Linked DNA regions of Homo sapiens: region 1 is linked to region 2. Evidence: fine-mapped expression QTL. A gene starts in region 2. The other region holds a variant in brackets. All regions are shown on one strand. Distances are between the middles of the regions.

Region 1 (10,944 bases), 43 kb before region 2:
AAGAGGAAACCCAGAAGCAGAGATGTCCCAACAAACTCACACCAAACACCTTCTGAGAAAGTCCAGGAAGCTGGTGTCATAGGTTTTCAGCACCATCGTGAGGTCCTTGGAATCTGGGTATCTTTTTTTCCCCCTGTTGTTGGTTATATTTTTAGGAAAACCTTTGGAATCTGTAGAGATAGAACATTCTGTATTTAGTTTCAGGTGTAAATCTTTAGTGGTCACATGATGCTGCTGCTTAGAGTGGCCTCTGTAGCTCTTTTGCTCTCTGTCTTACACACTCGCCTCATGCCACACCCCAATAAACACACACACACACACTCAGTTTGAAATAACCATGTGTAGATTACCCAAGGAATGCAATTTACTTTAAAAATTGATTTTTTCCTACTATTCAGTATGTTCTGAACTTCCTTCCCACTGCCTCCTCTCCAAATCAAAGAAATAATTTAAATGGCTTAACACCAACCAAGATAAAATAATAATGCTAATGATAATAATGACAATGGTAAAGTAAATGTTAAGTGACAAGGTCCTGTGAAATTGTACAAATATCCATTTCCTTTTGGATCATGGCCTTAGCCCTCCCACTTCATCCTACATTGTCCTTTTTACCAATGACCAAAGAAGAATCAAGCTCACAGTCTTATCAATAACAAAGCTCCTAAAGTCATGATCATGTAATTGTTTTTTCTCACTCTGGCCCTCATCAGTCATTCCCTCCATCCCCTTCTTACTACCTGAGCCACCTGGGCCACCTAAGTATAATATCTTACCAGCCTTGAGACAACACCATTTTGCTGCTAATTAGGGGTATTAACTAGGAGTCGCCCGGGGCAGAGGAGCAGTTGGCAGCCCAAACCTGGGAAAGGAACAGTCAAGAACTGAAGTGGACAACCGTGTTTCCCAAACTTATTTTGTCATAAGAATCACAAGGAGCCGTCATTAAAAACGTCGAATCCTGGGTCCTATCGCAATCTTCCCATAGCATAGCTTATAGAAGAGAATCACAGGAATTCGCTTTTTTGCCAAGTCCCCAAATGATTCTTACATTTGGATAGAGTTTGGAAAACACTGACGAAGATGCAGTTCTCAGCAACATTCCTTCTTTCACAGGAAGTGAAGACATGGATATTGCTGCCAAAACCCCATCACCATCCTAAAGCCTAGTGCTGATGGTAGAAATAAGGAACTCTATGAAGTAGACATGCCTATGTCTTTAGTACGTTCCTACGAAGGTGCTCTGTGTTCCCTTCCTGCTAGTCCCCACCTAGATGCTATCTCATGAGTTCAGAGTTACAGGCTCAAGATATGTCTTCCCACAGTGACTCTGCCTAATCCAAAAGGCTGAATTATTAAGTTGTGGGTAGAAAAAGTATATTTGGGATCCAAAGACCAGTTCGCGTGCTCCATGTGTAAATTATACTGGGGAGCCAGCCAGATCCTTTGCCTACCGCCAGATTGCTCGGTTAATGTGTGGTCACCATTCTATGGCAACCAGGACACTGCCCTGCTCAGAGGCAAGGTCTCCAAAGCTCCAGCCATGATTACCAGATGATGTTTAAAAGAATTAACCATTGGAATGAATGGCATGGAACCAACTAATCAGAATGGAAGACAGCCCTGGCACTGGAGTAGGATCATAGAGAACTTCTGCTTGCTTGGCCTTCAGCTTTTAGGTTTTTGGATCATGGAGAGTTTAAGGAGTCCTGGGAGAGGGCCAGGGAGCCTGCAGTTGTAGCAGGGCTCAGGGCTGTGGCTTTTTACCAAATGGTACAGAAATAGACAAATTATAACCCCCACATGGCTGAATCAGTTCATACTGACCAGCATGACCCAAACCCTTTTATCCTAAAGGATCTCCCCACGAGAGTGTTTTGGACCTTCCTACTGATGGAGCAAGTTGTGAACAGAAATTGTGTGATTTGCATACATATTCAGAAGCTGCTCGCAGTTGAAAATCAGAGGTGGGAGGGCCAGGAATGTCTGGGATTGTGTGGTCAGAGGGAGTCCATGAACCGACCTGACAACAATGGCTGGTCAGAAATGTCACTCCAGGTAGCATGGAGTCCCTGTCTGTGGAGTTCCCTTTTCCTCCTATTTGGCTTTGCTCCACTTTGCTGACCTTCAGCCCACTCTGGCTGTTTCTATCTGGGACTCTTAGCTTCCTGTGGTTCTTTAAAGGGATTTTAGGTATGAGATTTGCTGCATCTTTTTGGTGCGTGTACGTTGAAAGCCCTGCCTCAGTTGATACCTTGTCGACCCATCCTTCCATCTTGTATAGGACCACTTAAATAGAAAGGCGGAGGATCATAAAAATCCAGAATTCTGGGAATTATGAGGAGAGGGGCAGCCTGGACTGTGGACGAAGTTTACTCCCAACAATCAGACAGATGACACGTACATAACTACCAGCCACAACACATCAAAGCAAAACTAAGTCCTTGCTTAACCATTGGCAATGAACCTGGCACAGTAAGGTCTGGAGGATAAGAAGAATTTTAGCAGGGGAAACAATAATGCAGCAATGGAATTTTCCACTATTCTTGAAATGAAGCTTCTGCTCTTTGATTTCCCTGCACAGTGCATAGTGTGAGAGGGCAAGTTGCTTGGGAGAGTGGGGAGAACTTCCGGGAGAGGATGCAGTTACAATATTTTGAGGTTGCAATATTTGCTGATAGCTCTTCTGAGCAGGGACCTGGCTATTCTCCTCCTCCTGAGCATTTTTACTGTCAAGACCCTGTTCCCACTGTGACTCCCCCATCCCATCTCCAACATGCTATCCGATTCCCCTGCTCATTATCTTTTACTTCTCTGAAAGACGCTCTTAATCACAGCCCTTTGGTATGTGGCCAGGGGAAAAGAATGAAATGAGCCTTAAGGTATGGCAGGTGTCTTCAAGGCCTGTGACACCTCATGAGACACACTAGGACTTACCAAAGAATGTCTGTCTCCTGGAGGCTGTCTGAATGAAGCCGGCTGGCGGCAGACCCAGCACCTTAATAAGGATAATTCAATTGGTTCATTCTTTGTGGGAGCACAGATTCAAAGGCTGAGGGGTGGAGCGTACTTTGGCCAAGCTTTGCCTTCTACAGATAAGGATTCAAAGCATTAAGTAATAACATCTGGTCAGTAGCAGAGCAAACCCAGAGCCTGGGCCTTTTAACTCCTAATCCAGGGCTGGTTTCATATCCTAAGAATCAACACTGGCCATGTTATTCTACACAAACATCAGCACCAACTAGGGGTGGGCCACCACCCTTGATAGCAGCCAGATGTCATTGTCAAAGCAAATAAACTAGTACACATGCTGCCATGTCAGAATTAAAGAATGATATATCCCACCATGGAGCACTGGAAAGGGAGAAGAAAAGATGAAAATCACCGGATGAGCATCAGACAATTATAAGACAAAATACCTTCTTGAAAAGAAAAGTGTAGCACCTACTTGTTCATCTTTTCCTACTGCAACTTAGAGGGGCACACAGAGATAAGGAAATTACAGTGTGGGTCACCTGCCCTTGCTGCTCGGTTCCCACCCATAATCCATCCATTATCCTGCTCTTCTGTTCCTCAGACCCTTTGACACTGAGGTCAAGAGGAAGCTGAGTCAGTTCTGGGGCTGTAGGAAATTTGAAACATAGGCCCCGTTCTCTTTGGTATTGGAAGCAGGAGTGGTCTGGGGATGCTTTATAAAATCATTCATTATCAACCTTAGAAGCCATCTTCTCTGCTCCCCTCATTTTATAGTCCAGAGCTGGGAAATGCCTAGTCAAAAAGACAGAGCCAGGACTAAGACCCCAGGTTTAATGACTCGCAGGCCAGTGTTCATTCCACCACAGCTATTTTTACCTAAGTTATTTTAATATTTTATTATTAGTTTCGATCATGAAATGAAATTATCTATGTTTAGTCATTCTCAAGGCTATATGTGTTTCTCTGTAACTTTGAGACAATCTGGAAAATAGAAATTTGGCAAAGATAGATAGATACAGATACATAGATAGATAGATAGATAGATAGATAGATAGCCAGCCAGCCAGCTAGCTTGGTGTTTGCACACAAAATATCTTTGTTCACTGGGAAAATCCTAAAATGTAAAATTTAAAATTTTTAAAGTTATTTTTCTATTTTGTCTAATTTATTTCCAAAACAAGATGGCTTTCAAGTGAAAGCATAATAGATATAATTAATAATCATATCATGAGTCTTGGTCAAGCCTTGCTATTAGGAGATAGTTTTCCCAGAAAACTGTCATTTCCCATAATGAATGACTAATGCCTGAACAATACACATACTTTGAAGTCAAATAATTTCCAATTCTTTGTTTTCAACATTTTAATCGGGTTGTCAGCTGACAGGCTGGTAAACATAATTTTAGATGACAGATCACCATTTGATTCTTACACAGAACTCAAAAGGAGTCACCGAATTAGACGACATTAATTAGAACAGGCTTCCTCACTGGGTTCACATCTACACCACCAAGCAATTGGAATCACATTGATCCCGAGCCCGGGCATTCTAGCAAGAAGCATTATTCACCTATGGGTATAGGCATTAATTTGGAAAAAAAAAAAAAAAAAAAAAAAAAACCCAGCTCTATTCATTTTTCTAAGAGCTGTATGCCCAATAAGATTTCACATTTTATTTTCAATAATTATCAAAATTTGCACACCAGATATATTTTAATGGTAACTTACCAGAAAGAAATTTTTACACATGAGGCTTACGGTATCAGGAAATTTTTAAAGCTATAATGATTGATAGAAGTTTCTAAACATAAACGTATATTAAATTAGAATAAAATTCCATAGAGGAAGTAGAAAAAAGAGTAGAAACAAAAGGGAAAAAAGAACAAAGTAAAATCATGGCACAACTCTTAAGAACCTGTTCACATACTATCAGATAGATTTTAATGGGTGTCATGTCCGTCTGGTTTTGCATTCTTTTGGATATTTTTGAAAGAGCGGTGTAATTTTATTTTAAAATGTCACTATTTACAATATGATGGAAATGACATCCTCTGCAACTATTTAAATTTATGATAAAACGTTAGATGTCGACTTGACAAGTACAAGGGAGTACACAATTTCAAAACTCCTTTTAGGGAATACTCAACAACAACAACAACAACAAGGTATGCAGGCCATGGTCCTGGGCGAGTCTGGTGCAGCCCCGTGTCTGAGGGCCAAGCCCACGGTCTCCGTGGGAGCCGACCGCCAGCCCTCCGCGTACCTCCATGATGCAGGCCAGCTGCTCCACCTCATTCTCCCCGGGGAACAGGGGGTAGCCCGTGTACAACTCCGCCGTGATGCAGCCCAGGCTCCACATGTCAATGGCCACGTCGTAGGGGTGGCCCAGGATCACTTCTGGGGATCGGTAGAACCGGCTTTGGATGTACGTGTATACTGCGGAGGCAAAGTAAGAGAAACCTCGTGGGACAAACTTCTTACCCTCCAGAACGCTCTC[C/T]CCCAGGACAACTTCTCAGTTAGACTGCGCCCCCGCTGGCAGTGAAAGGGAAGTGCAGCTGGCCAGCACTTAGAACTCCCATTACACCATCACAGCATCAAATCCGCCAGCAACCTGATTATAAAGGAGGTGTGACTGTCCCTGCTTTATTGATAACGAACTCCAACGTGGGCACTGTCGTAGGAAAGTGAATCTAAGTGAGCCAAGTTTATAACAAACAAACAAAACATAAGACAAATATAAGACTAAGTTTTCAAACTGTCAGATTGATTTGGGGTAGACAGCTTCTGAGTCTTGTGACTTGGCAAGAGAGTTATCAAGTTAGAAAGGGAGCATATCAAGTTAGAAAGGGAGCATGCAAAGTCTGTATTCAATATAGCATGTGCACTTATTGTATAGAAAGAAAATTCTCAACAGGTGAGGATGAACAGACTGAAGTCGAAGAAATGGAACACGGTAGTTATTTCCGCATAACTGGGGTTTCTGGTTACCTGGGGAGGGGCAGGGATTCTGTAACCACTTTTCTGTTGTTTAAATTGGTTATTGTCAGAACATAATTCTGTGATTTAAAACAAAATAGAGATTTAATAAAAATAATGTTTATATCCTGCCTGCTTCCCAAATGTGTTTGTGGTACTTTGCAAAGTACACATGCACAGAGTATTTTAGAACATGGATTTAATGGTATTTACATTATGTTTAGTATGTGCCAGGCACGATTCCAAGTACTTTTATAGATAAGCCCTTTCAACCCTTACATTAATTCTGTGAAGCAAGTAGTATTATTGCCTCCAATTTAAAGAAGAGAAAACTGAGGCATACAGAGGTTAAAATGTCAAGGTTACTCAGCTATAAGTGACAGAGCTGGGATTTGAGAGTAGGCAGTTTAATTCTAGCATCAATATTAGATACTGCCTCACAGTTAAAATAAAGATAAAAAAGATGTCAGAAAATATGCAAAGGGGGAAATGACTGCTAGAAACCAAGGATAAAATAATTACGAATTCAGTTCCGAGCATCTTGGCAGCCAAGATAAATGAAAACTGAAAAGTTACACAGCTTTCAACATCTGAGAAGGGAAAACATACAAGTTCTTTGTGGGAAGCATTACTTTTTAGCTGGAATTTCTTATAGGATTCATACATAAAGACACAAAGGTTTTATGTCCTCAAAAATTGATCTGCCAGAGAGGCCCAGATGGAGGACACAGAGGCATGCTGTTGCCATGGCAGTGTGGTCCTGGCTGCTGCGGAGGCAGGTGCCAGGGTCTCCCTTGCCTCGATGTGAAGAGCTTAGAAAGCGGAGGAGAGGAGAACTCCCCTGGCCGTCTCTGTGACCCCAGCCGCCGCATTTTACACAGACAGGAGGGAAACAGAGGGAGAGAAGGGAAGGACGGTGTGGAGTAGAAATATTAATGGTGGGAGAGAGGAAAATGAATGAAAATAAAGAGACTGATTCAAAAGAAAGTGAAGAATACAAAGATGAATCTGAAAAGGACCTGGAGGGGTTAACTAATGAAAATGAAAAAAGTGATGCCAGCATAATAGAGATGGCTTGTGAGAAGGAAGAGAATATTAACCAAGACTTAAAAGAGAATGAAACAGTAATAGAACACAGCAAACAGCTTTCTGATCCTGACAAATCTTTGCAGGATGAGGTCTCACCAAGAAGAAATGACTTCATTTCGGTACCGAGTATTCAACCTTTGGATCCCATATCAGATTCAGATAGTGAAAACTCTTTCCAGGAGTCCAAACTAGAAAGCCAGAAAGACTTGGAGGAGGAAGAGGATGAGGAAGTAAGGTGATACATTATGGAGAAAATTGTACAAGCTAACAAGCTTCTATAGAATCAAGAACCCGTGAATGATAAAAGGGAGTGAAAATTTAAGCTCAAGGACAAATTAGTTGATCTGGAAGTTCCTCCACTAAAAGACACTAATACTTACAAAAGTTATTTTGAAAATGAAAGAAATATATTTGGGAAACTGTCACAGTGATGTATTTCCAATGATTTGGGACAAGAAAATATGCTCCTGTCACTTATTAATGGAAGCTGTGAAATAAACAAGGATAGGACAATACTGGTAGAGAGAGATGGAAAATTTGAACTTCTGAATTTACAAGACATTGAAGAGTCAGGGGTATTTGCCTCCCATTAATAATGCAAATAGTACAGAAAATGACCCTCAGCAGGTGTTACCCAGATCTTCCAACTCCTGTGTCAGTGGCATCAAGAAAGAAGATTCTGCAGCAAAGATTGATGTTGTCACTCACTCATCAACAGGAGAGCCGTTGGCTTATATCCCTCCACTTATAAGTTGGCTTATATCCCACCACTCAACCGCAAGACTTGTCCAAGCTCTGCTGCCATCTCAGATCGAAGTAAAGGGAATGGGAAATCTAATCAGGACAGTCTGCACATATCTCATCAGTGACCTCAACATACTGTCTTTCCCCTTGACAGAAAGAACTACAAAACGAGAACAAAAGAGAGAAAAGCTGAAAAGAGAGGAAGAGCAACAGAAAATAGAAGAAGAGGAAGAAAAAAAGAGGGAGAATGGCATAGTATTTAAAGCATGGTTGCAAAAGAAAAGAGAGCAGGTCTTAGAAATGAGGAGAATTCAGCAAGCAAAGCAGATTGAAGACATGAACAGCAGAGTAAGTAAAACTTTTCTGAAAAATAAGTTCATACAGATATGAAAGCTGAACTTAATTACAAAAGGGAGTCTGGATATCAGCCTATGAAAGAAGTAGAAAAGTGGTTCAAGAACTACCCTTGAGAAAGATGCAACATGCAGATAACTTTCCAATTAGGTTCTAAGAGGCCTTGTGAAAATAAAATGATTCCTATTTTGTTCAGACTTTGAAGGAACAGAAAATAGAAAATGATCAATTCATTTTTTCAAGATGCAACTTTGGTATTCAAACAGGACAAAGATACACACACACACACACACACACACACACACACACAAACCCTACAGACTGGTCTCACTTAAGACTAGACATATGGAAATCTTATGTAAATCTTTAGCAAATTAAAGACACCAAATTATTTAATTTAAAAAAATTTTAAAAATTGAAAATCCAAGAGAAAATTTTGAAAATCATCCATATCCTTACTAAAAAAAAGATATATATGTAAAGTAAAAGTTGAAAATTCAACCCTAAGCTCTTCCAGGCTCATCTCCAGTGATAACCACTTTTAACAGTGTGGTGCAAATCCTTTTATATCTTCTTTATATTTATACATTTACATGTCAAAAGTTTCATTATTCAGTTTTTTTTCCACTTACTTCATCATGGACATCTGTCTAGGCCATTACATTTAAATCTCTCTTTTCAAATAGCTGCGTGGTATTACAGCGTTAATTTATTAAACCCTTCTTCATTTGTAGATGTTTAGGTTGGTTCCAATGTTGTGCTAGCTAACAGTGCAGTAGTGAAGATGTACATTCTATGAGAACATCTGTAATCTGTAGGAGAGGTTCTTCAGAGGGGAATTTATAATTTTTGAAGGTTTAGAGTGAAATGTTTGGTTACAGATGCAAAAGTATCCTCCCAAAAGATAATATGAATTCACAGTTCCTCCAACAGTGTGTGAGAGTGAATGGCTAACACTGTATGTGGTGCATTGACTTATTTTTTTCTTCAAACTAATAATATACATGCTTGTATATGAGCATGTGTGAGACACAATAAGAAATAGATATAGGACTTTACCCCTAGTTTTTGGAACAGAGCTCCTAAAACCTTTTTAATTTCTTGAGTGATAGGGGTTCTACATGTATCTCTTGTTCTAATAATTGACCTTTTATCCTGGCTTCTGACACAGAGCTCCTAATCCTTTGGAACTTCTTAGGTGATAGGACTCTCTTTGTTCTAATGAGATGACTCTTGGTGGGCTCCTGAATAGGGGCTGGTTGCCAGAAAGACTAAGCCATGATTAGAAACTTGGAACTTTCAGTTCTAACTCCTTTCTTCTAGGAAGGGGGAAGGGGCTAGAGATTGAGTTAATAACTTCAATGACTATGTGATGACGCCTTCATAAAAATCCCCAAGCTGCAGGATTCAGAGAGCTTCCAGGGTATGGGAAACGTGGTGTTGGGAGGGTGGCGTGCCCCCAAGAGGGCATGGAAGCTTCACACCCCTTCTCAATACTTTGCCTTGTGTATCTCTTCATCTGTGTCTTTTATTATATTCTTTATTAATAAACTTGTATATGTGTTTCCCTGAAAAAAAATTGATCCACCAAATATTTGGAAACATCCATCTAGTAGTCCCGTCTTCAGCCTCAGGAAGCTTCCTCTGACAGCCCTTGCCACCTTAAAAGCTGGTCCCAAAGTCCCTGTGTTGTATATCTTTAACACAGCCTGTGTATATCTCTAATCATTGTATTCACCATATTATTTTTATCTTTCTGTCTCTTACATTAGATAGTAAGCAACCTGAGGACAGGGAATGTTCACTAATTGTTCCTGGTACCCAGGACAGTGACTGACACAAAACAGATCACAAATGTCTGTTGAATGGTACGTGTTCTCTATAGCGAACCTGATAGAAGCCGAAAGAACACAATATTAAATAAAGTTCAGTAAACGCTGTGAAAATGTACTCCAGAGCTACTTTTTTGGATCCTAGCTTGAAAAAGAATAAAACCTAGAGGATCTGGGGCAGTGAATTCCAAACTTCAGAATGACTGTGGTTTCTGAAGCGCAGACTTCTAGCTACTTCCCAGAAATTTGAATTAGGAACAAACTACAATTTTTCAGAGCCCCAAAGCAATTCAGATACACAGTTAGTTAGTTTTGGGGCTCACTGTTCTAGGATAATTCCATATCTACAGAATATGAGAGCTTGAAAGCACCCTTCTAGTATTTGGATACAACTTTCTCAAATTGTAGATGAGGCAACTTGGGCTCAGAGAAGCGAAGCACCTTGTTCAAAATCATACTGGTAGTGGTGACAGCTGAGCGCAGCCTAGAAGGCAGGTGACCTTGTATGTGAAGGGAGAGAAATTGCAATAGGAAAACTCAGATGATGGGACTGACATGGGGCTCACCTTTCTGGTGTTCATAACAGCTTGATCCAAAGTCAATGACTTTAACAGAGGCTTGGCCCTTTTGGTATAGCACTATATTTTCCTAGAGAGAAGAAAAGACATATGTCAAGCTACAGTAATGCGGCCCTAGGCCCTCTACTTACCTAAATGCTCCTCATCCTTCAGGGCCCAGTTCAAATATGACCACCTCCATGGGCATCCTCCCACATCCTCTCCAAAATCCCATCATCCTCCGCTCTGACTTTCCATTTGACTTGTGGTCGGCGTTTCTCATTCAGACCTCATAGTCACTGCTTTGCACAGTTTCTTTTGCATATATTTGTCACTTTCCCCCTATTGATTCTGCAACTCCTGAAGATAGTGACTTTGTTTTTATCTTCTTTGGCACCTGGTTCTAGGCCTTGCTTG
Region 2 (10,944 bases):
ATGATGGCACCACAACTTTGAAAGTATTCAGAGGATTAAAGAAAAGTCATGCTAACATTTCTTGCAGTATAACTATTGAAAAATCAGAACTTGTCCATAATGGGAAGTTAACAATTCATGGCACACATATGTTTTATGAAATATAATGCAGCCATTTAAAAAATAAGATAGATCTTTATATGTGCCCATAATGTATTGAGCAAAAACAGTAGAACATGTGTGTAATATAATTCTATATTTATTTAACAGAAAACAAAATGCTTGCATGTCTTTATACAGGCATATTGAAAGATCTAGAAGAAATGAACTGTAATAGTGACCTCTTCTCAGTAGGGCTGGGGGAGGTAAGTAGGAACATTAACTTTAACATACACACACATACAGACAATATGAAAAAATCCTGCACAAAAGCAAACAAAAATTACCAGTAACTTCTCTGCTTAAGATCATAGTTTCACTTCTTCCTTCTCTTCCTTTCTTTCTATAAACATTTGCTGAGACAATTTCACTGATAAACCAGACATGGTCTCTGCCCTCAAAGAAAACTCCTTATCCAGGAAAGGAGGTACATAGAAGAAAGTAGATCATGACAATGCATGTGATCGATGTATTAATACAGCCTTCTGCAACCAGCTCCCAGAGCATGTTTCCAGGTGTTGACTAAGTCAGCTGGAGGAGCTGAGGAAGCCTTCACGCTTGAGCAGGGTAGAACCATCTCTGAAGAATGAGCAGAGCAGGCAGGAGTGTCAAGGGCAGATGGAGGAGGACACACAAAGAACATAAATATGAAAGAACATTGTTTTTTCCAGAAATTTTGAGCACTGTCCTTGGACATTGCCGATGGAGGGCCAGGGAGGTAGATTAGGTTGTAAAGGGGCACGTAGTCCAAGTTAGAGTCTTGGAGCCTGCGTGGCTATGCTAAACCTGGGCTGAAGATCAGATTTGTATTCTGGTACCATTTCTCTGGCAATATCACGAAGCACGATTTGGAGGAACTAGGAAGGCATTTTGGGTGTCTAGATAAGAGTGAATGAGAGCCTCAACCAAGGCACTGACAGTGGGGATAGAAGTATGAACTTGGGAAAGATTTGGGAGACAGAACAGGTAGAATTGTGGCCATCAACTGGACATGGGATTTGTAAAATCGCAACATTGGGCAAAAATGAACACAAAAATTTTTCCTGCCAAGACTCTGTATCGAGTGTTGCCTTCCTTTACTTCACAGAGATGTAGGAGACTATGAAAGTACATGTGGGATGGGCATGGTGGCTCACGCCTGTAATCCCAGCACTTTGGGAGGCCGTGGCGGGTGGATCATCTGAGGTCAGGAATTCAAGACCAGCCTGGCCAACATGGTGAAACTCCATCTCTACTAAAAATACAAAAGAAGTTAGCTGTGTGTGGTGCCTCACGCCTGTAATCCCAGCTACTCGGGAGGATGAGGCAGGAGAATCTCCTGAATCCGGAAGGCAGAGGTTGCAGTGAGCGGAGATTGCACCACTGCACTCCAGCCTGGGCAACAGAGCAAGACTCCATCTTAAAAAAAAAAAAAAAAGTAAATGTGAAATCTTCCAAACAGCTGGAGCCCTTTCCTCTGTTCAGCTCTGACAGCGCTGGAGGCAGAGAAGGAGCAAACACTGAAGGAAACGCTGAGGAATCATGGAGCCTCGTCACAATGCCACCTAACACACAGTGCCATGATTTTGAATGAGCCATTTGTCCTCTCTGTGCTATTTCCTCATCTGCAAAATAATGAGACTGGAGACTGGAGCAGGTGACTTCTAAAGTCCCTTTGGGGTCTAAATTTCTTTAATTCTACAAAAATACTGACAGACTGAAAAAAAAATCTCTTGTGACTTATTCCAACTTTGCCATCCCTTGGATAATTCTGTGATTATTAAAGACTATTTTGTGCCTTTCTTTTTTTATGCATGAACTCTGGCTTCCAACAGTACAACTTAACCCTTGCTCAAAGCTTTGCAAATGCTACCTTTTTATCCTCAAAATATGTGGTGAGCTATGTGGAAAAGAATTAAACTGCTTTTTATATTTCGTTTGTATCTTGTTACATGAAGGATTGAAGATAACTAATAAACTCAGCTCAGAGCTAGAGTGAATGTTCCTTTGAGAACTGAAACCAAAAGTTTGGCCATTCTCATTTCATCTTACATGCAGATCGGAGTTCTCCTTCCCCTTCCTCTCTTTCCTCGAGCGTTCAATCGTGTGTTTGCCTAAGAAACCATTTTTTCACTTGGTCAAGAGCTTTAGTGTCATTTAATTATCTTAGGTGCATATATTTTTTGTCTCATATTGATTGTTAGTCTTTTGGAGACATAGATGGTGATCCTGCATTTTTAAAAAATTCCTTTTGGGGTAAGGACAGTGACTTGTCTGTTGAAAACTTGGTACAAATTTGCTGAGGGAAGAGAAATCTAAAATAGATTAATTCATCAAAAAATTCCAGAGCATCAACTGTGTGCCAGCTACTGGGCTAAGCATGGAGGATTCAAAGATAAATAAAACAGAAGCCTTGTTTTCAAGGAGTTCGAAGACTCAAGGTTAAGGCAGATCCACAGAGGTGCCAGCCTTACTGCACTGCATAGTATTTTATATTAATATATACACATCATCTGTGTATAGAGTACTTCAATATCCAGAAAGGAAACAAGTCTTTTGAGATTTACCTGTTATGATTTTAGGATTTCTACTGCAATTGCCAGTAGCTTGATCTTTATGCCCTGGGGGCTGTCTTTGGGGCAGAAAGTATGGCAGTGCAGGGTTTGCAGGGATTCCGTTTGCATTCTGTGAACAGGTGATAATGTTTTTAATGAACTTAAGTTACATTCATTTTTTAATTGATATATAATAGATGTATATTTATATTTATATAATATATAATCAAGTCAGGGCTTCAAATTATTCTCTACTAGCTATTTTGAAATATACAATAGATTATTGTTTACTATTGTCATTCTACTGATTTATTAAACACTAGGTCTTATTTCTTCTATCTAAATGTATTTTAAGTCACACTCATTTCTGCCAGAGAATTCCTTGGACCCTCTGCATATATCCCTGAGACTCTTGAGGGTTCACTGACTCCCAGACTCTAAAGAGCTAGAAGAGGTTTTGGAGACCATGTCATCCATTTTCCCACCCTGGGGAAGAATCCTCTTTCTATGGTATTCCTGGCAATCACTCTGTCTATGCTGGAATATTTCTATGACAGAGTGCACTGTTTTTCTAGGCAACCCATTTCACACTCAACTGTTAATTTACATAGGGTTGGTACTTGATATTTCTTGGAAGAATAAACTATATTGAGCAAAATTTCCTCCACTGATCCTTGCTATCCTCTGCAGAGTACCAAGGAACAAATCTATCTCTTTTCTACTCAAGAGTTCTTGAATGTTCAAAAGTTGAGTAGAAAAAAGCTTTCTCTCCCTTGCATCTCCTCATCTCCAGGCATTCTGTGAAGTTTTTTCAAACCTCTCTTCATGTGATGGCACACCCAGGCCTGACAGAGAGAGCCTGCCTTGTGGTTGTTCCTATTTTCCAGTTCTTTGTGATCTCAAAGTAGCTACAGTTTCTAGAGTCTGGATTATGTTCTACTCATTGCTAAGTCAGGCAGCACGACCATATTCTTTGATGTGGTCATTGCATTTCTATGAATGCAGCCTCCACCAGCATTTGCTCTTTGGGGAGCCATCACAACACACTCACGATGGGCTTAGAGTCAGCTAAAACCACTAAATCCCAGCACTGGGTCCTCCACACGCTTGAGGACTATGCATTCTAGCCAAGTTGCAGGCAACAATATGTGGAGTTGGAGAGGGCAAAGTCAGGGAAGAGTGGCTGGCATATTGCTAGAGAGTCCCTTCCGATTTACCTCTGCTTTCTCCATAAGGACCAAAACAAACAAGAGAAACAACAGATTTAAGTAACAGAAACAATAAGGTAGAGTGCATGTTTGAAGAATTTCTTCGAACTCCTAGGTTTTACATACCGACCACATGTAGGTGATCAAATCGCTCAAGCAAGACAAAGGACATTTTCATTTGTTGTTTCCACGGTTTGAACTTTTCCACTAAATGGCCTCCTGCTTTTGCCGAGTCTCCACTTAAGCCTGGACAGTGAAGCTTGAATTAATATTGGTGATGCTGTCCGTTGCTTAAGACATGTCAGAGGGGTCACGGTTTTCCTAAGCTTTGAGGGGCTGCTGGACATTTCAAATGCAGCAAATGTCACAGAATAGCCTTTAAAAACCCTCAAATTGTGCATTGTTCATCTCTTTTTTAAGGAAAGATTTGCTAATATTGGGAATTTCCTGAGTGGCAGCTCTGGGTGTGTGATCTACACACACCTTCGCGCGCTTTTGTGTCAGGGGCTGGGCCCTGGTTGAGCACAGAGGTGCCCGGGCATATGGGCTGGGTGGGAACATGAGTAATGCCTGCCAGAGCCTCATCCACGCGAGGCGTGTGGTCGTGGACCCACTTACGACTACCAAGAGGACATGCAGTAAAGAAGAGAAAGAAAGGGAGGAAGAAAGTCTGGCGTCCCAGTGAGGGCTGGAAGCACAGTTCCAGGATAGGTCTGCTGAGTTCCTCAGAACCCCTCGCTCCCTGTCCTGCACTCAGCTGGAGTCGCCGATGCGACAGCATCTTAACATGGAAGTATACTGACGTCGGATTCCGGGGATGCAGCTGCTGCAAAAACTACAACTGTATTTTCTTGTCCGCGCACCACAGCCCGCCTCTCTCTGACCCACATTCCCCGGTCAGCTCTTGCATTCTGCACGCTTTTCATTCTCCCCCCACGACCCCGTCGACCAGAAGCTTCGTCGCCTGCCTCGTACTCGCGCCTGACTGCTCGTGAAGTACGAGCCTCCGCGGCCCTTACTTTGTTCCGGTGCGGATAGGCGGCGGGAGGAGCTGCATGAGGCCGGCGCTGACCGCCCGCCGCTGCGGGAGGCTGTGAGAGCCCGGCAGAGGGCAAGGGACGGCCACGCCCTCCTCCCGTCGCTATAGAAACGGCTCCCGCCCTTTTTATGACTCCAGAGCTGGAAGGGCTTTCTCAGGCTGTGGTCCCAAACCACCTTGCAGAGTAGCAGCCTGAAGAACATACTCCTCGTCCTCCTACTCGCATTCTCTTGCCCCAGTTCTTTAAAGTATAGGGCAAGAATTGAACAAAATCCCAGCATAAAGAACTTAAAGTTGGTTGCCCAGACCGGACACATGAAATTATCCCTACTCTCTCCCCTTCTTCAAGCGAAGCATGTGGTTATCAGAATTACATCACAGAAGTTCTGGCCGGGCGCGGTGGTTTTACACCTGCAATCCCAGCACTTTGGGAGGCCTAGGCAGACCACTTGAGGTCTGGAGTTCGAGACCAAACTGCTCAAAGTAGTGAGACCCCCCCGCCCCTGTCTCTATTTAGACATTTTTTTCTGTAATCCCAGCACTTTGAGAGGCCAAGGCGGGTGGATCACGAGGCCAAGAGATCAAGACCATCCTGGCCAACATGGTGAAACCCCGTCTCTACTAAAAATACAAAAATAAGCGGGGCGTGGTGGTGCGTGCCTGTAGTCCCAGCTACTTGGGAGGCTGAGGCAGGAGAATCGCTGGAACCCGGGAGGCGGAGGTTGCAGTGAGCCGAGATCGCGCCACTGCACTCCAGCCTGGCGACAGAACGAGACTGCATCTCAAAAAAAAAAAAAAAAAAGAAAAAAAGAAAAAGAAAAAGAAAAAAAGTAAGTACATAGCAAAAGTTCTGGGTAAAATCCATATATCAGCTGAACACTTTTTGAGTGCTTACTCTGCACCAGATTGTAGAAAGCATGAAAAGGGAAATTTGTAATTGAGTGGCAGTAGGTTGACCTGGAGGTGCACAGTCTGGTCCAGGCAGAAAAGACATTCAAATGAAGCTTTCTGAAAGAGCTGAGTTGAATCTGAGTCTTCAAGGACAGGCAGTAGTTGTCTACGTAAAGGAGGCAAGTCCTATTCTGAAGGCCAGAGCCATAGAAAAGCTTGGTACCATTGTGCCAGCACCCAGTTTAGTGGGGCAGGGATCAAAGTTGCACGTGGGCAGAGACAAGGTTGAAGCAGCAGGAAAGGGGGAGTCAGACACCAAGTAGGCTATGAACTCGACCAGGGTAAGGTGTGTATGTGCAGACTGCAGAGGGGTGTTCATGCTGACTTTATTTTATAAAACCCTCTGTGGCAATAACAATGGAAGTAGGCCCGAGTAGGTTAAGAATCAAGGCAAGGATGCCTGTTAGAAATAGTGAGTGATGATGTTTCAGAGTAAGGGAGAGCACATGGAAGAGTAGTTTTGAGAAATTTAGGAAATGGAGTAAGACTTGGTGACTGGATGTGAAAGTCGAGAGAAGACTCAATCCCAGGATGACACCTTTGGCACCTGCAGTGATGGTGGTGCCATTCATTTACCAACAGAAAACACAGGAGAGATGTCAGGGGTAGGAGGAGACGTTGAATTTAACAACTGATCTGCTACATCAAATTGTCAGTGGACCATCCACAGGTTCTGTTGTCAAGAGCATGGTATAGGGTACAGACCCTGACTTGGCAGTCACTGTCACATAAGTGACCCCTGGAGTTTGCATAGAACATGAAACTGGTAAGACAAGTAGGTAAAGGTGACACAACAGATTAGAAAGCTGCAAAATAATGAAGAGTAGGCATGGAGATGGGAAGAAATGACAAAGAAATGTGTCACATGAGCCAAGGAAATCAAATGTTTTCATCAGAGTATAATGAATAGGGTGTATAAGATTAGGTGAGAAAATTGTACACTGGGTTTGGCAACATAAAGGTATCAGTGCTTTCAGCCAGGCTGGTTTTAACATACTTTGAGGTAATTTTCAAATCCCCTGATAAACTATAAAGAACACGGCAAAAACAGGTTATTGAGCTGGTGCCAGATGATTAATCAATTATATCAGTACCTAATATACAGTAGGCTCTTATGTTTATTGTTGATCTACACCAAATAGAGTACCTCAGTGCTATGTAACTGGAAAATATGTTTTTAAAAAGGGGACAGGTGGGGCAGGTTAGGGGGCTGGTATATGACACTATAAAAATATACGTTAGATAAAAGAAGTGTACAACAGCAATAGACAAATGCTCACTTTAATCACAATTCTAAATTAATTATTTTCACATTAATATAGATATTTCCATAAACCAAGAAAAACTGAGTTATTATACATTTTTTAACAGCTAACATGATTTGAAAATTTTTTATTAAAAATTGATCAGAAGCTAGTTGAAATTCTCAATGTAAATATAAAATATTCATTACAATTGTTTTTCAAAGTAAATTCAGATCTAAGCTTCCTGAAAAGCTGTACTATCTCATATCATAATAGGGATGACTAAGTACTTGACAACTACTTTCTAAAGAACTTAACAAAAAGTGACTACTTGAAGATTACATTTACAACAGAAAGGCTAACATTCTCTGCGGAGCTCTCATTTTATCATGAAATGTGGACAATCAGGAACACGTGGATGAGTGGTATCAAGAAAAAGGGCATTTCAAAATATTTCCACTTTTATTAAAGGTTTTGACAATGAAGATTTCATAAAATGTCTTTAAATACTATTTTCTAGAGAATAACCATCTAAATCGGAGACATATGCCATAAAACTGCAACCATTTTAGTGTGTAAAATAATTCTAAGTTTGTACTATAAAAAGATTTGGCTAAAATACAAAACATCTTTGCGATAAAACTGACAACGTAGCTTAAGTAGCTTATAAGATTTCAGAAATGTCTTCTGAAAGAAATAAGAATGTTTTCCTCTGCCAGATAAAACTGAACAGTTAAAGTTAAGGTGCTATAAACTAGACAAAGCTAGAAAGGCACATCATGTAACTAGAAAAGAACAGCATGTGATGTGGACTTCATGTCGAACTGATAGAAAAACAGAATACGCTCTTCACAAGGAAAGGTATGAGAAGATAATTCTTATAAACAAACTTCTCATTGAAGTCTTGAAGAGTTTTACAGAGAACATAATCATAAAATGGCTAGAGGTCATTTATAGGACATGGTAATGGATTCCTTTATATTACAATACCTGCCTCAAATATAAACACAAATCAAATATAAACACCCTTGTAAAGCTGTGATTCTCCCAACCAAACATTCCTCCTGTACCACACTCAGGTGCTAGTGGCATTTGGATGCAAAGGTTTAACTCGTGCTAATCTGGACAAGCCAAGGCGGAGACTCTGATTGGGAGACTTCACAGACACTACCACCAGTGGGCTGCTGCTACTTCTGCTACCTCCAGATGCCGCTGAAAGGAAACATATGATGTGATGCTGATGATGTCAGAAATCTCTTAACAAAGATTAATTTATAAAATAAGCAGCAAAAAAAAGGTAGTTAAGCATTATTCTGCTTTCCAGTGTCTATCAAGCAATAAACTAGATCAAAAGAACAGAATGTTCTAAAGAGCAGAAATTAATACAGTATTGCCTATTTCCAAACATCCCAGAAGCCAAGGTAATGACACTAAAACCTCACCATGAAAGCTGAAAAAGGAAGGCTGGGAACAAATAATGCTAGTTGTAAAGGCATACAAAAATGCATATAATTATAATTTCTAAAGTAATAGAAAAAGCAAATGCATTTTTAAGGTCCTGCAATTTTTACAAGTAGTCCTTGAAGAGTCTATTTTTCAATTATTAAATACCTTTAAAAATGGCAAATATTGTTATTTATTTATACTAGTTTCATTATACTATTATCCTAATGTCGCAATTATTTCCATCTATTTCAAAATTATCCACATGAATGTTCACAGTTGATGGTGACTGTAGTTGCTCGCCTACACAACAGTATTATAAATTTAAAATAAATAATTATACCTGCTACCCTATAACTCAGACTATACTGCTTTATTGTTTTCTAGTTTGAAAGGTATAAAATAGTATTTTATTTTAATTTACACTTCCTTAATTACCAGTGAGACTGAAACTCTTCATATTTTCTTGTTGTATTAATAGTTCTTGGGGACACTGTTATATTTATGCCTCTGGCTAATTTTACTTTTGGGGTCTTGGTGGTCTTCTCCAGTTGTATAAGATAGGTAACAAACTGGCAATCTGAGGGCCAAATCTAGCTCTCAGATATATTGTTTTGGTTCACATGGTGCTAACAACAACAACAAAAAAAATCAACTTACAAAAATTAGCAGATTTCATATTAAAATCTGGATTTCTGGCTTCTCTTGAAAACAGCAATCAGATCTAGAAATACCAAGCCCATAATCTTGCATGGAAACAATACGATGGAGCTGAGTAGCAGCTGCTTCCTTCAAAAGGGTACGCGCTCCTGAGTCCAACAAAATTCCTACCCACGCAAGTCTACTGCATGGGCCCAATTCACTCGTTTACATCACTTGCCTGACTGTCACATGCTGACTTGATAAGCACTTTGTGCTTGATGACATTAACTCTTTATCCATCATTCCACTGTTTCCTTGTATTTTTTTAATTATGCTACTTTTAAATTTCTATAGTTATATCACTCCATTTAAATTTCCTTCATTGGGGAAGCATTAATTATTTTTAGAAATATACTAAGTATTACTCTTTGAATGATATGACATCAAGTAATTAATCTTCCCTCCTTTCCTTCTCCAAAAAGTTTTTAAGTCCTCATTAAAAATCTTAGAAGTTGTAAACCAGAATGGACTTTAAAGATTACAGTTGTTCCCAATATTTCACATGATGAAATGAAGACTCTGTAAGTTAAGTAATCATGCAGCCTCACAGCTCACGCCTAAATCTATGAATAGTAGTCAGCAGGGGAGTGAGCACTGTGGACCAATCAAGAGAGGCCCCTCAAAAGAAAAACAGGAGTAGAATTGGAAGGGCTCAGGCAAGGAGAGGGGACACATGAAGAAAGACACACCAGGCAGAGGAGGATTAAGAGAGGCCCTGAGAGAGGCATACATACAACATGTTTGAGAGACAAAAAGTGTTTCAATTTCACTGAAGTGGACGGTTCATGCAGGTGGATGACAGAAAGTAAAGACAGGACTGGTTAGGAAAGGCAGCAACAATTTGGGCCTGGATTAGGGTTTTAGTAATGTCAAGAAGGGTGAAGGTCAAAGAATTCTTGAAGGATCCATGAGACTTGGCTGTGGAGCAAAAGAAAACAGAGAAGTGAAATTTGTGAAAGCAAGAGGTTGAGTTTGCTAGGGCATTTGTTAAATGCTAGAATTGCCACATATAGATCCCAAGGCTTCAGTCAGACTGTGGAGGTCAGCAGGTCCTGAGCAAAAGATTTGCTGCCAGAAATACATACTTCAGGAATCTCAAATGTTTACACCCTTTAACACTGTAATTTTCCTACTAGAAATTTTATCCTAGGAAAATAATCAGTAATATGCCCAGAGATTTCTAAAATAAGGACATTTGCACTTATTGCAATCTTATTTATAGCACTGAAAAAATAATAAACCTGGATGTCCAATAATAAGGAATGGTTAAATAAATGAATATATGCAGCAACCAGGAACTTTGGTTTTGAAGAATATGTAATAATATGGGGAAATGCTCACACATGATGTTTGTAACTAGGAAAAAAATTTACCAGTGATAATTTTCCAAGCTCCTGTCCTTGATGATAAATATGCCATACCTGGTGGGACCCATTTAGGTTTCTTGCTTTCAGCTGAAGGACTGCGTATTTCTAATGGTTTCCTAGTGGTATCTGAAGACAGAGAAACCTTTTTTGGCAAGGACTGAGATTCTGATTTGACGGCAGCTGGAGCAGAGTCCACCGAAGTCACTTATTTGAAAAATATACGTAAAAATGTTTGTCATGCAGGAAGAAAAAGTAAGTCTAGCATATATGTGTAAAAATTATAAAGTTACATAATCATATAAAAAATAAACTTATTAA

The links.
Region 1: its variant is fine-mapped to the expression of DYRK4 in whole blood (TOPMed, PIP above 0.99).

Annotation. Positions count from the first base shown.
Region 1 is chr12:4,599,381-4,610,324 of GRCh38, reverse strand. It overlaps DYRK4 (dual specificity tyrosine phosphorylation regulated kinase 4), which reads right to left. Exons shown (of 15, transcript NM_001394779.1): 10 at 10,537-10,618; 11 at 5,239-5,411; 12 at 2,938-2,998; 13 at 41-170. It also overlaps the pseudogene LOC103568124. Among named protein-coding and RNA genes, the nearest start is that of DYRK4, 43 kb to the right of the region's middle. RefSeq lists an enhancer at 5,165-5,504. The variant C/T (reference allele first, on the strand shown) is at 5,473.
Region 2 is chr12:4,556,239-4,567,182 of GRCh38, reverse strand. It overlaps DYRK4 (dual specificity tyrosine phosphorylation regulated kinase 4), which reads right to left and starts at 4,975. Exons shown (of 15, transcript NM_001394779.1): 1 at 4,900-4,975. The coding sequence starts at 4,937. It overlaps RAD51AP1 (RAD51 associated protein 1), which reads right to left. Exons shown (of 9, transcript NM_006479.5): 8 at 10,681-10,830; 9 at 7,136-8,326. The coding sequence ends at 8,190. RefSeq lists an enhancer at 711-790 and a silencer at 4,846-5,140.